Homo sapiens: one gene and its partner. The protein of the gene in region 2 interacts with the protein of the main gene of each other region in a pairwise test. Each region holds a gene or a part of one and is shown on either strand. Other genes may lie near its edges.

What was found. Proteins that work in one complex are often made in the same cells at the same time.
Region 1: the proteins of NLK (region 2) and SDR16C5 interact in a two-hybrid assay, tested with the Homo sapiens proteins (one large-scale study listed by BioGRID and IntAct).

The regions. Positions count from the first base shown.
Region 1 is NC_000008.11:56,309,334-56,314,570, forward strand, and holds part of SDR16C5 (epidermal retinol dehydrogenase 2), read right to left. Parts: intron 2,956-5,237; coding exon 2,824-2,955; intron 1-2,823. UniProt on the Homo sapiens protein: Oxidoreductase with strong preference for NAD. Active in both the oxidative and reductive directions. Oxidizes all-trans-retinol in all-trans-retinaldehyde.
Region 2 is NC_000017.11:28,184,667-28,189,903, reverse strand, and holds part of NLK (serine/threonine-protein kinase NLK), read right to left. Parts: intron 4,726-5,237; coding exon 4,639-4,725; intron 1-4,638. UniProt on the Homo sapiens protein: Serine/threonine-protein kinase that regulates a number of transcription factors with key roles in cell fate determination. Positive effector of the non-canonical Wnt signaling pathway, acting downstream of WNT5A, MAP3K7/TAK1 and HIPK2.

The DNA.
Region 1 (5,237 bases), on a different chromosome or scaffold from region 2:
CAGCCACAACCCCAAACCTCACAAACATGATGCTTTAGATTTAGATTGCCTTCTCTCTGCTTAGCTTGATTTTGAGTTTCAAATTTTCCCTGAACATTGTTCACAGGACATCTGGCTGTTGACTTCAATTTTAAAAGAGCACTTTGTTTTAAACTCATCTCTTATTTTTGTTCCATTTCGTAAAACAGAATATCTATTAGAAAGAGGACACATCTGTATTCTGTCCAACACCTTCACCCTTGATTGGGGGCCTGGAGAAAGAAGGTAAAAGAGACAGAAATGAGCTTTTAAGGAAGACATCTTCTGCATCAAAGGAGTAACTAATCACACCAAAGACAAGGAGGTGAGAAAAGGGATCTCTTACAAAGGCCAAACCTCACTTGTTTGCCTGCATTGCAATAAGTCTCAGAGAGAAACTAACAGGTAGAGAGAGGTGGGAAATCAAAACAAAGCAAAAGGAAGCAGTGCAGCAAACACTCTGGGGTCTGCCATGAGTTGGGACACTTCTCAGTAGGGACACTGCCTTTGAGAGCCCAGCCTTCAGGTAGCTCTTGGACGCTCTAGCAGTTAAGTCACTGTCTTTGTGCCTGGCAATGTGCAGATGCTCAAAGAATGTACATGAACTTGCCCAGAAGAAGTAAAGGGAGTGAGATGACATGAGGAGTGGTAGGAGCCAGGGAAACACCAGCACTGAAGGAAGAGGAGGAAGAGGAAGAGGAGGTAGAGGAGGAGTTGGAGTTGGAGGAAGAAGAAGAAGGAGGAAGAGGAGGAAGGAGGAGGAGAAGGAAGGAGGAGGAGGAGGGAGGAGGAGGAGGAGGAAGGAGGAGGAGGAGGGAGGAGGAGGAGGAGGAAGGAGGAGGAGGAAGGAGGAGGAGGAGGAAGGAGGAGGAGGAGGAAGGAGGAGGAGGAGGAAGGAGGAGGAGGAGGAAGGAGGAGGAGGAGGAAGGAGGAGGAGGAGGAAGGAGGAGGAGGAGGAAGGAGGAGGAGGAAGGAGGAGGAGGAGGAAGGAGGAAGAGGAAGAAGAAGAAAAGAAGAAAAGAGAGAGACAGACACCATGAAGGCACCTGGGGAAAAACAGAGAGGTAGGAAAAGAACACAAAGCCAGGCCAAGCGCAGTGGCTCACACCTGTAATCCAAGCACTTTGGGAGGCTGAGGCGGGCGGATCACAAGGTCAAGAGATGGAGACCAGCCTGGCCAACATGGCAAAACCCTGTCTCTACTAAAAGTACAAAAATTAGCTGGGTGTGGTGGCGTGCGCCCATAGTCCCAGATACCTGGGAGGCTGAGGTAGGAGAATTGCTTGAACCCGGGAGGTGGAGGTTGCAGTGAGCCGAGATCGCGCCACTGCACTCCAGCCTGGCGGCAAAGTGATACTCTATCTCAAAAAAAAAAAAAAGAAAAAGAACACAAAGCCATGGGAGTGGAGACTTCCAGGGACCATGGTCTTTATCTTCATTCTGACTATATATGAGTATAAGCAAGCACCAAGGAGAGGGACATTTGGGACAAGATAAATCATTTGCAGTAGTTCTTGTAGGAACATGGTAGCCACTAAATTCTGAATCTTTCCATTTTTCTCCTGAAAACTTTACAAAACACCAAGAATAGCACCAGCACCATTACATTTTTGGTGGAAATAGGGGACAGAAAATCTACAAATTCCAAATTACATTTGAAGGCTGCTAAAGAAGACTTGGGTGGAAAGGTGTGAGGAGAATGGAGGAGGAGCTCAGAAATCTCCAGCAAAGACTCCCAAGAGAGAGCCTTGCCCAGGAATGACGAGCTACGAGCAGGGCTGGAACCAAACAGGTCAAAAGTCCTGTGATCCCAGCACTGTGGGAGGCCAAGGCAGGCGGAACACTTGAGGCCAGGAGTTCAAGACCAGCTTGGCCAATGTGGTGAAACCCTGTCTCTACTAAAAACACAAAAAATTAGTTGGGTGTGGTGGCGCGCACCTGTAATCCCAGCTACTCAGGTGGCTGAGGCACGAGAATCGCTTGAATCCGGGAGGTTGGAGGTTGCAGTGAGCTGAGATCACACCACTGAACTCCAGCCTGGGAGACAGAATGAGACTCTGTCTCAAAAAATTAAAATAAAATGATAAAGTAAAATAAAAATACAACTTTTAATAAAAGCTGGGAGAGGCAGCAAGAGGGTGCATGCATAGTGTGGGGAGGCCTGAGATGGCTGGTCTCAGCAAAGGCCAGAAACATGCAACTTCTGGAATTGAGTGGGTGGCTTTAGAAGTCAGGACTGTGCTTTTAGCGCTGGTAGCAGGTGGTAACCTGGGTTACCAGTGGAACCTCTAATTTCTCTGGTTGGGTACTAACTAAGGTGACTATAGGTTTTGGTTTGCCCATAACAGACCTGATTAACACTTGCTCATTAATAATGCTGAATTTCACTTCCAAAAGTGTCCCAGCTTAGGCAAATTACAAAGCTACCCTGGTCCTGTCTAAGTGCAGTTGCTCGCTATGTAGCCTGGAGCAAATCTTTTAAGTTCTATGATCCCTTATCTCACCGAGCTGTTTTAAGGAAAATATGTGAGCCACCTGGAGTATTTCCTAACATTTGCAGCTAATCAATACATGGTAGCAGGACCATGAGGACAGTTCTGTCCTTGTAGAATTCCCTAAGCAGAGGTCCTGGGGGCTGTAGATTAAGTGGCATCAGAAAAGGACAACTGTGTAGAACAGGACAAGTCCAAAACTGAGAAGTCTCTGCTTTACTTAGAGGCTAATAATATTGTAAAAGAGCAAGAGGAAAATACTTCCAAATGCCAGAATAATTTTACATTTATGATGAGAAGAAACAATTATTACCCATAAATGTGCTTTGAAATTCACATCAAATGACTTTTCCATAAGCTCATCTGGACAGTCAAGGAACTTTTTGCCTGTTACGATTCCGGCATTGTTGATTAGGATGGAAACATCGCCGACTTCTTTTTTAACCTGAATTGAATAAGAGCAACACCACCAATGTAGTAATTCCTTACATGGGCTAGGTTTTATTTTCCCAGAGTTTTATGTTTTTTTTATCCTGGTTAATTCATACTGAGTTTATGCACTCTAAAAATACAGCTTGGGGCCAGGCGCAGTGGCTCACACCTGTAATCCCAGCACTCTGGCAGGCCGAGGCAGGGGGGTGACTTGAGGACAGGAGTTTGAGACCAGCCTGGCCAACATGGCAAAATCCTGTCTCTATTAAAATTACAAAAATTAGCCAGGCATGGTGATGCGTGCCTCTAGCCCCAGCTACTCGGGAGGCTGAGGCAGGAGAATTGCTTAAACCAGGGAGGTGGAGGTTGTAGTGAGCCAAGATCACACCACTGCACTCCAGCCTGGGTGACAGAGTGAGACTGCATCTAAAAAAATAAATAAAGAAATAAATACAGGTTGGTTTATTTCCATTGCTGAGTCTACAATGCACCACACACCAAGTTTTTTTTTTTTTTTTTGAGATGGAGTCTTGCTCTGTCGACCAGGCTGGAGTGCAGTGGCACGATCTTGGCTCACTGCAAGCTCCGCCTCCTGGGTTCCCACCATTCTCCCGCCTCAGCCTCCCAAGTAGCTAGGACTACAGGTGCCCACCACCACACCCGGCTAATTTTTTGTATTTTTAGTAGAGACAGGTTTTCACCGTGTTAGCCAGGATGGTCTCGATCTCCTGACCTCATGATCCACCCGTCTTGGCCTCCCAAAGTGTTGGGATTACAGGCATGAGCCACTGCGCCTGACCTCCAGAGATCAAGTTTTGATGTGCTTTTCCCATTTTTCTCTTCTTAAAATGAGTCCATGTTCAAAATGCTACTTTCTGTTTACAGTTAGAGCTGTTCTTCTACTCAGTGGTTAGTAACTTTGTTCTGTGCTCTGTATGTGGCATTTCATTTTAATCAATATGATGGGACATAAGAATAGCTTCATTATAGCCAAATGTGACATAGATCAAGACCTCACACACGGAGAAGGGGCTGGATTAGGGAATAAATAGAGGAAAAGAGAAAGTACAGTCATAAATCACTTAACAATGGAGATACATTCTGAGAAGTGCATTGTTAGGTGACTTGGTTGCTATGTGAAGATCACAGAGTGTACTTAATAAACCTAGATGTGTGGCTACTACACATCTTAGGCCATATGGTAGAGCCTATTGCTCCTAGGCTACCCACCTGTACAGTGTGTTACTATACTGAACACTGTAGGCAACTGTTAACACATTGGTTAAGTATTTGTGTATCTAATCATAGAACATTGGGACAGTAAAAATACTGTAATAATCTGTCCCATAATGTGGGACCACCATTTTGTATATGGTCCATCACTGACCAAAATGTCATTATATGGTGCACGACTGTATATATTTTAAACACACAGCACAGATTAGAATCTGCCTGTCCTGTTTTCATCAACTGGCTGGTTTTCTTCTTTCCAAGGATGGACTTCCTGAACTCAAGGCTAAGCTATGGCCTAGGGATACAAGCTTTCAAAGTTATTGGAGACTCAGCAGAGACAAAACGCTGTCATATCACTCTGAAAGCTTTCTCTTTGATTGCTCGTCTAAGGGCTACTTCTTAAAAACTCTCTGGTATTGGCCGGGCGCGGTAGCTCACACCTGTAATCCCAGCACTTTGGGAGGCCGAGGCGGGTGGATAATGATGTCAAGAGATGGAGACCATCCTGGCCAACATGGTGAAACCCCGTCTCTACTAAAAATACAAAAATTAGCTGGGCGTGGTAGCGTGCACCTGTAGTCCCAGCTACTTGGGAGGCTGAGGCAGGAGTACCGCTTGAACCCGGGAGGTGGAGTTTGCAGTGAGCCAAGATCATGCCACTGCACTCCAGCCTGGCGACAGAGCAAGACTCTGTCTCAAAAAAAAAAATTATCTGGTACTTTCCTTTCTATCCAGAATAAAAAGTGGAAATGGTGGGTTTATAAGGATGGGGAGTAATTTCCTTCCCCTGAATTCAGAGGAGCACATAAGTAATTCCCTCAAGACCCCACAGTGATAAAACCTGAATAATAAGCTAGTAATATGACATGTTTGGCTGTTTCTGAAGTCAAGCACCTGGGGCAGAACTAAATCACAGTTACAGGGAAAAGGGAAGTAATTATTTATAGAGTGCTTCATACTAGTTTATCCCATAGCTAACAATCTTCATCGTTTGAACATCAACCGGTTATTGCTTAAGGCTGGCCAGATAAATTGTAGTCAGTGTAAGTCAACATGCCAGGT
Region 2 (5,237 bases):
AAGCGGGTGTTTATCTACCAGGAACAGGCAAACGTATACTTGATAACCTTGTTTTTTTTTCCTTTCAATAAGTTTATGTTTTGTATTTGGTGATCTAGCTCTTTTGAAGTCTGACTTCCCTGCATTCTTAGCAAGTAAACTTTTTCCTTTTCTTTTTTTCTAAAAAAGTCTGAGTCCTTTGATAGCGATTCCTAGAGATTCCACTGGGATAGTGTTCCACTGTTTGAACCCAAAGGAACAAGTAGGCTGACAGTGTATGTGCCTGATCCCAGGCCTCTCTGAGCCCTTGGCTTCCCTTTCCTTCTATTTTTCTTTAACTTCTGTTCATGAGTTTCAGGACAGAACTTCAACGGTTTATCCTTCTGTTCCTTTAGGTTACATACAGTGATCATTCCAACAACATACTTGTCTGTAAGATGCTTCACACTTACACCACTGTGCAGTTTCTCCAATAGCTTGGCATTCTGTGCTATAAACAGAAATGCTTCCTCTTTTTAAAAAAATCAGTTACCTGCTGGGTTATCTGCAGGACTTTTTGACATTTTCAACAATATTTTTACTCCAAAGAGCACAGAATAGGCAAAAAATACAGTAAATAATGCCTATAGGTCTTGGCAGCATGTGGGACATTGTGGGGAACCTGTCATTGGTGCATCTGGCCTGCAGATGTGCCATTTTATTACCCTTTGTGGGCACATTTGCATGGGGGAATCTGGATATGCTTGGGGAAGATAGAATCACAGCTGAAGGAGGCTGGGGGTCTTTTTTCCCTTGGGGATACTGAACAAACTGTGTGTTGTATGCCTGCTTTTTGATGGTGACCTGTCACTGAGGTCAGGTCATTTGTGGTGTCATGTTGGCACTCAAAGTTCCAAATTAGGGATGTTCAGCGTGTGTGTGTGTGTGTGTGTGTGTGTGTGTGTCTGTGTTTGTCTGTGTATGTGTATCTCACCACAGACACCTGCTCTTAGACTGAATCAAGTAATTGAGTCATCATTTCAGTTCAGGAGCAGACATGTGATGGCAGTAGACTGCTTAACCCAAGATCAACAAAACAAGAATAACTAGTTACCTCAGACTAAATGGACTAAATAAATACACTGATTTAATTATGGTCAATGGTCTGTTCTTCATGGATATTTAAAAAGTGGCTCACGCCTGTAATCCCAGCACTTTGGGAGGCCAAGGTGGGTCAGGAGTTCGAGACCAGCTTTGTCAACACGGTGAAATCCTGTTTCTACCAAAAATATAAAAATATATTAGCTGGGTGTGGTGGCGCACATCTGTAATCCCAGCTATTCAGGAGGCTGAGGCAGGAGAATCTCTTGAACCCAGGAGGTGGAGGTTGTGGTGAGCGGAGATCGTGCCACTGCATTCCAGCCTGGGTCACACAGTGAGACCCTGACACACAAACACACCTCATTTCTTTCTTAATGTATTGCTGACTTTCAATTTAACAGGTTAAAATCAGAACAAACCTCTCTTTAAATGGTTTCTTGTTCTCATTGAACTCTCAGAACTGGAAATAAAAAAAATCCTTAATATAGATCAAAAGCTAATAAAGCATCAGGCTAATTTAAAAATAGTTCTGTAACAAAGTAACAAACTTGTCGGCTTTGTTTATAACACAGTGATAAAAATGGTTAATTATTATGTAGTGTGCATTAAATAAATTAATTTCTTTCTTTTTGAGACAGGGTTTCCCTCTGTCTCCCTTGCCAGGATGGAGTACAATGGTGAGCTCATGGCTCACTGTGGCCTTGGCCTTAACCTCCTGGGTTCAAGCCATCCTCCCACCTCAGCTTCTGGAGTAGCTGGAACTACAGGCATGTGCTACCACGCCCAGCTAATTTAAAAAATTTTTAATTTTGTAATCCCTAAGTTGCCCAGGCTGGTCTTAAGCTCCTGGGCTCAGGAGATTCTCCTGCCTCAGCCTCCTAAAGTGCTGGGATTACAAGTGTGAGCCACTGTGCCCTATGCTCAGCCTAATTTCTTTATTTTTAAATGACTATGTAGTTACTTACATAGGTTCCAAAAGAATATATACTCTTCCTTACCAGATAAATCTTTCTCCTTAGATAAATCTTTATAACTACAACTACACCACAAATTTCATTTAATTAAGTGTGATAATCCCACTGTTAAGGAATAAGGACTACATGTCACATGTAGAACTTGTGTACAAAAGACCTCCCAGAAAAATGGGCTTACTACTTGCTCTATGGCTTAGGAAGTTCCAGCCTTAAAGACTGTAAACACTACCTTCCTGGCAGATCGGGAGCATTAATAAACATGGGATCTCTAGGCTGGGTGCGGTGGCTCATGCCTGTAATCCCAGCATTTTGGGAGGCCAAGGCAGGTGGATCATGAGGTCAGGAGTTTGAGACCAGCCTGACCAACATGGTGAAACCCCATCTCTACTAAAAATATAAAATTAGCCGGGTGTGGTGGCACGTGCCTGTAATCCCAGCTACTCAGGAGGCTGAGGCAGGAGAATCGCTTGAACCCGGGAGGTGGAGGTGCAGTGAGCTGAGATTGCGCTGCTGCACTCCAGCCTGGGCAACAGAGCGAGACTCTGTCTCAAAAACACCAAACCAAACCAAACCAAACCAAACAAAACATGGGATCTCAGAGAAAGAGGATGCCTTACAGCTCTAAACAGTGTATGCACACCTGGTAGAGGTGAGTTACATGGTTCTTGGATCCAAATCTAAATAGAAATAGAGAATAAAATATTTCTAACACATAAATTTCAATCCTAGACCCTTTATAAAATCCTCTATGGTCAGACAGAAATTACCTCTGAAGCCTGAATTTCACACAGCTCTAGTTTTGTTAACCATATAAAAGGAGTTTGTTTTTTAACATATTGATCAACATCTTCTGTTAGTTATGTAGATAAACTTACCAAATAACACAAAATATCAAATGATAGTAAATCACTAGCTCAATAAAGCAAGTTATATGATTGAAATTGTCCTTAATAGTGGGAACTTGATCACAAAGAGAGACTGTGGGAGCAAGAACTGCCACTTTGTCAGGCTTATAGTATCACTAAGCACTTCACATACCACATGGTATGGTTTGGCTGTGTCCCCACCCAAATCTCATCTTGAATTCCCACATGCTACGGGAGGGACCTAGGAGGTAACTGAATGATGGGGGCAGGTCTTTCCTGTGCTGTTCTCGTGATAGTGAATAAGTCTCATGAGATCTGACCAGATTAAAAAGGGGTGTTTCCCTGCACAAGCTCTCTCTCTTTGCCTGCTGCCATCCATATAGACATGACTTGCTCCTCCTCACCTCCCGCCATGATTGTGAGGCTTCCCCAGCCATGTGGAACTTTAAGGTTTAAGTCCAATTAAACCTCTTTCTTTTGTAAATTGCCCAGTCTTGGGTATGTCTTTATCAGCAGTGTAAAAACAGACTAATACACCACAGTAAAAAAACAAAAAAGAAAACAACAGCAAAAAACACCAAAATAAACACATAAGCAATCTAAATTGTACCCTGAGACATTACAAAAATAATTTGGGTCACCCTAATTGGTTCTGGTCCCCCAAATAAAAAAACCTTGACTGTTTCTCACAAACCTGAACTCCTTAACAGAATTATTTTTATCCCTAATCTTTGCTGTGCTGATGTCTGAAGCTTTGTGAATTTGATATCTTCTGAGAAAGTTGCAGCTTTCTCACTACAAATGGACCAATGTAAACTTAATAACTTTGGTAATTTTGTGGTTGTTTTATCTTTTAAATATCTGGTATTTTTCGTATTTGGTGACTTTGTATTCTTGGCAAGTTAAATTTTCTTTACTAAATGCTTCCATTTTTAAGTCTTCTTTGACAATAGTTATTGGCATAGATGTGAATAATAAATATTCTTTGGATGAATGAATAAATGAAGAGCTGAACTTACAGTATAATTTGTAGTATGTTCCAGAAGAGTCAAGTCCAGAAAGGGTATTGGGAAAAGCTTCCATCTCAACAACACAGAGCAAACATTTCCTTATGCAATATAATGGTCAGATTTTTTTTTCAAATAACCTTAAAAAACTTTGTGTCCTGGCCGGGCGCGGTGGCTCACATCTGTAATCCCAGCACTTTGCGGGGCTGAGGCAAAAGGATCACTTGACTCCAGGAGTTCAAACCAGCCTGGGCAATATAGTGAGACCTCTTCTCTACAAAATATTTAGAAATTAGCTGAGCATGCTTGTAGTCCCAGATACTCAGGGGGCTCGGGTAGGAGGATTGCTTGGGCCTGGGAGGTTGAGGGTACAGTGAGCTGAGATCACACCTCTGCACTCCAGCCTGGGTGACAGAGCAAGACCTTGTCTCAAAACAAAAAATCATTTTGTCTTGACTTAACTTGGTGTCAAACTCCTTTTACAAATAATGAGATAAATAAGAAATAAGAGTTAAATAAGATCCAGCTCCTTATCTCTTCCCTTAGACTCTTATGTGTTAATAATCAAACTTCTGTGTGATGAGCGTGCATGATACACATGATACTGGGGATTGAAGTTTATATTCTGAAAAGTAATTATTTACATTGCCAATCTATTCAAAACCACAATGTTTCTCTCGAACACATGTATTTGTAATTCATTAAAAATATATAAAAAAAAACACTACTTACTGGATCAAAGACCAACATCCTGCAAAGGAGATGAACAGCTTCATGTGTAGCCTGGCTAGACAGGGTATAGAGTACAGGAAGAGATGGCTGTGAAAAAATTAAAAATTCAAATATTTAAGTGAGTCTTTGTGTAAACAGCTATGGAATACAGCCAATTTATGATAAGGTAAGTACTCAGTTCAAAAGGCAATGTGTGTCTAAACTCAAGGAGAATGAGTTTTCCCTTCAGTAACCAGTCTTCAAAAGCAACAATTGTTACTAACTTCCCGTAGCATTTTTATTTATTTATTTATTTACTTATTTTTATTTTTATTTTTTGATATGGATTCTCGCTCTCTCACCCAGGCTAGGGTGCAGTGGCGCCATCTTGGTTCACTGCAACCTCCGCCTTCCAGGTTCAAGTGATTCTTCTGTGGTCATCCTCCCGAGTAGCTGGGATTACAGGCATGTGCCATCACGCTTGGGTAATTTTGTATTTTTAGTAGAGAAGGGGTTTTGCCATGTTGGCCAGGCTGGTCTCGAACCCCTGACCTCAAGTGATCTGCCTGCCTCGGCCTCCCAAAGTGCTGGGATTACAGGCGTGAGCCACCACGTCCATC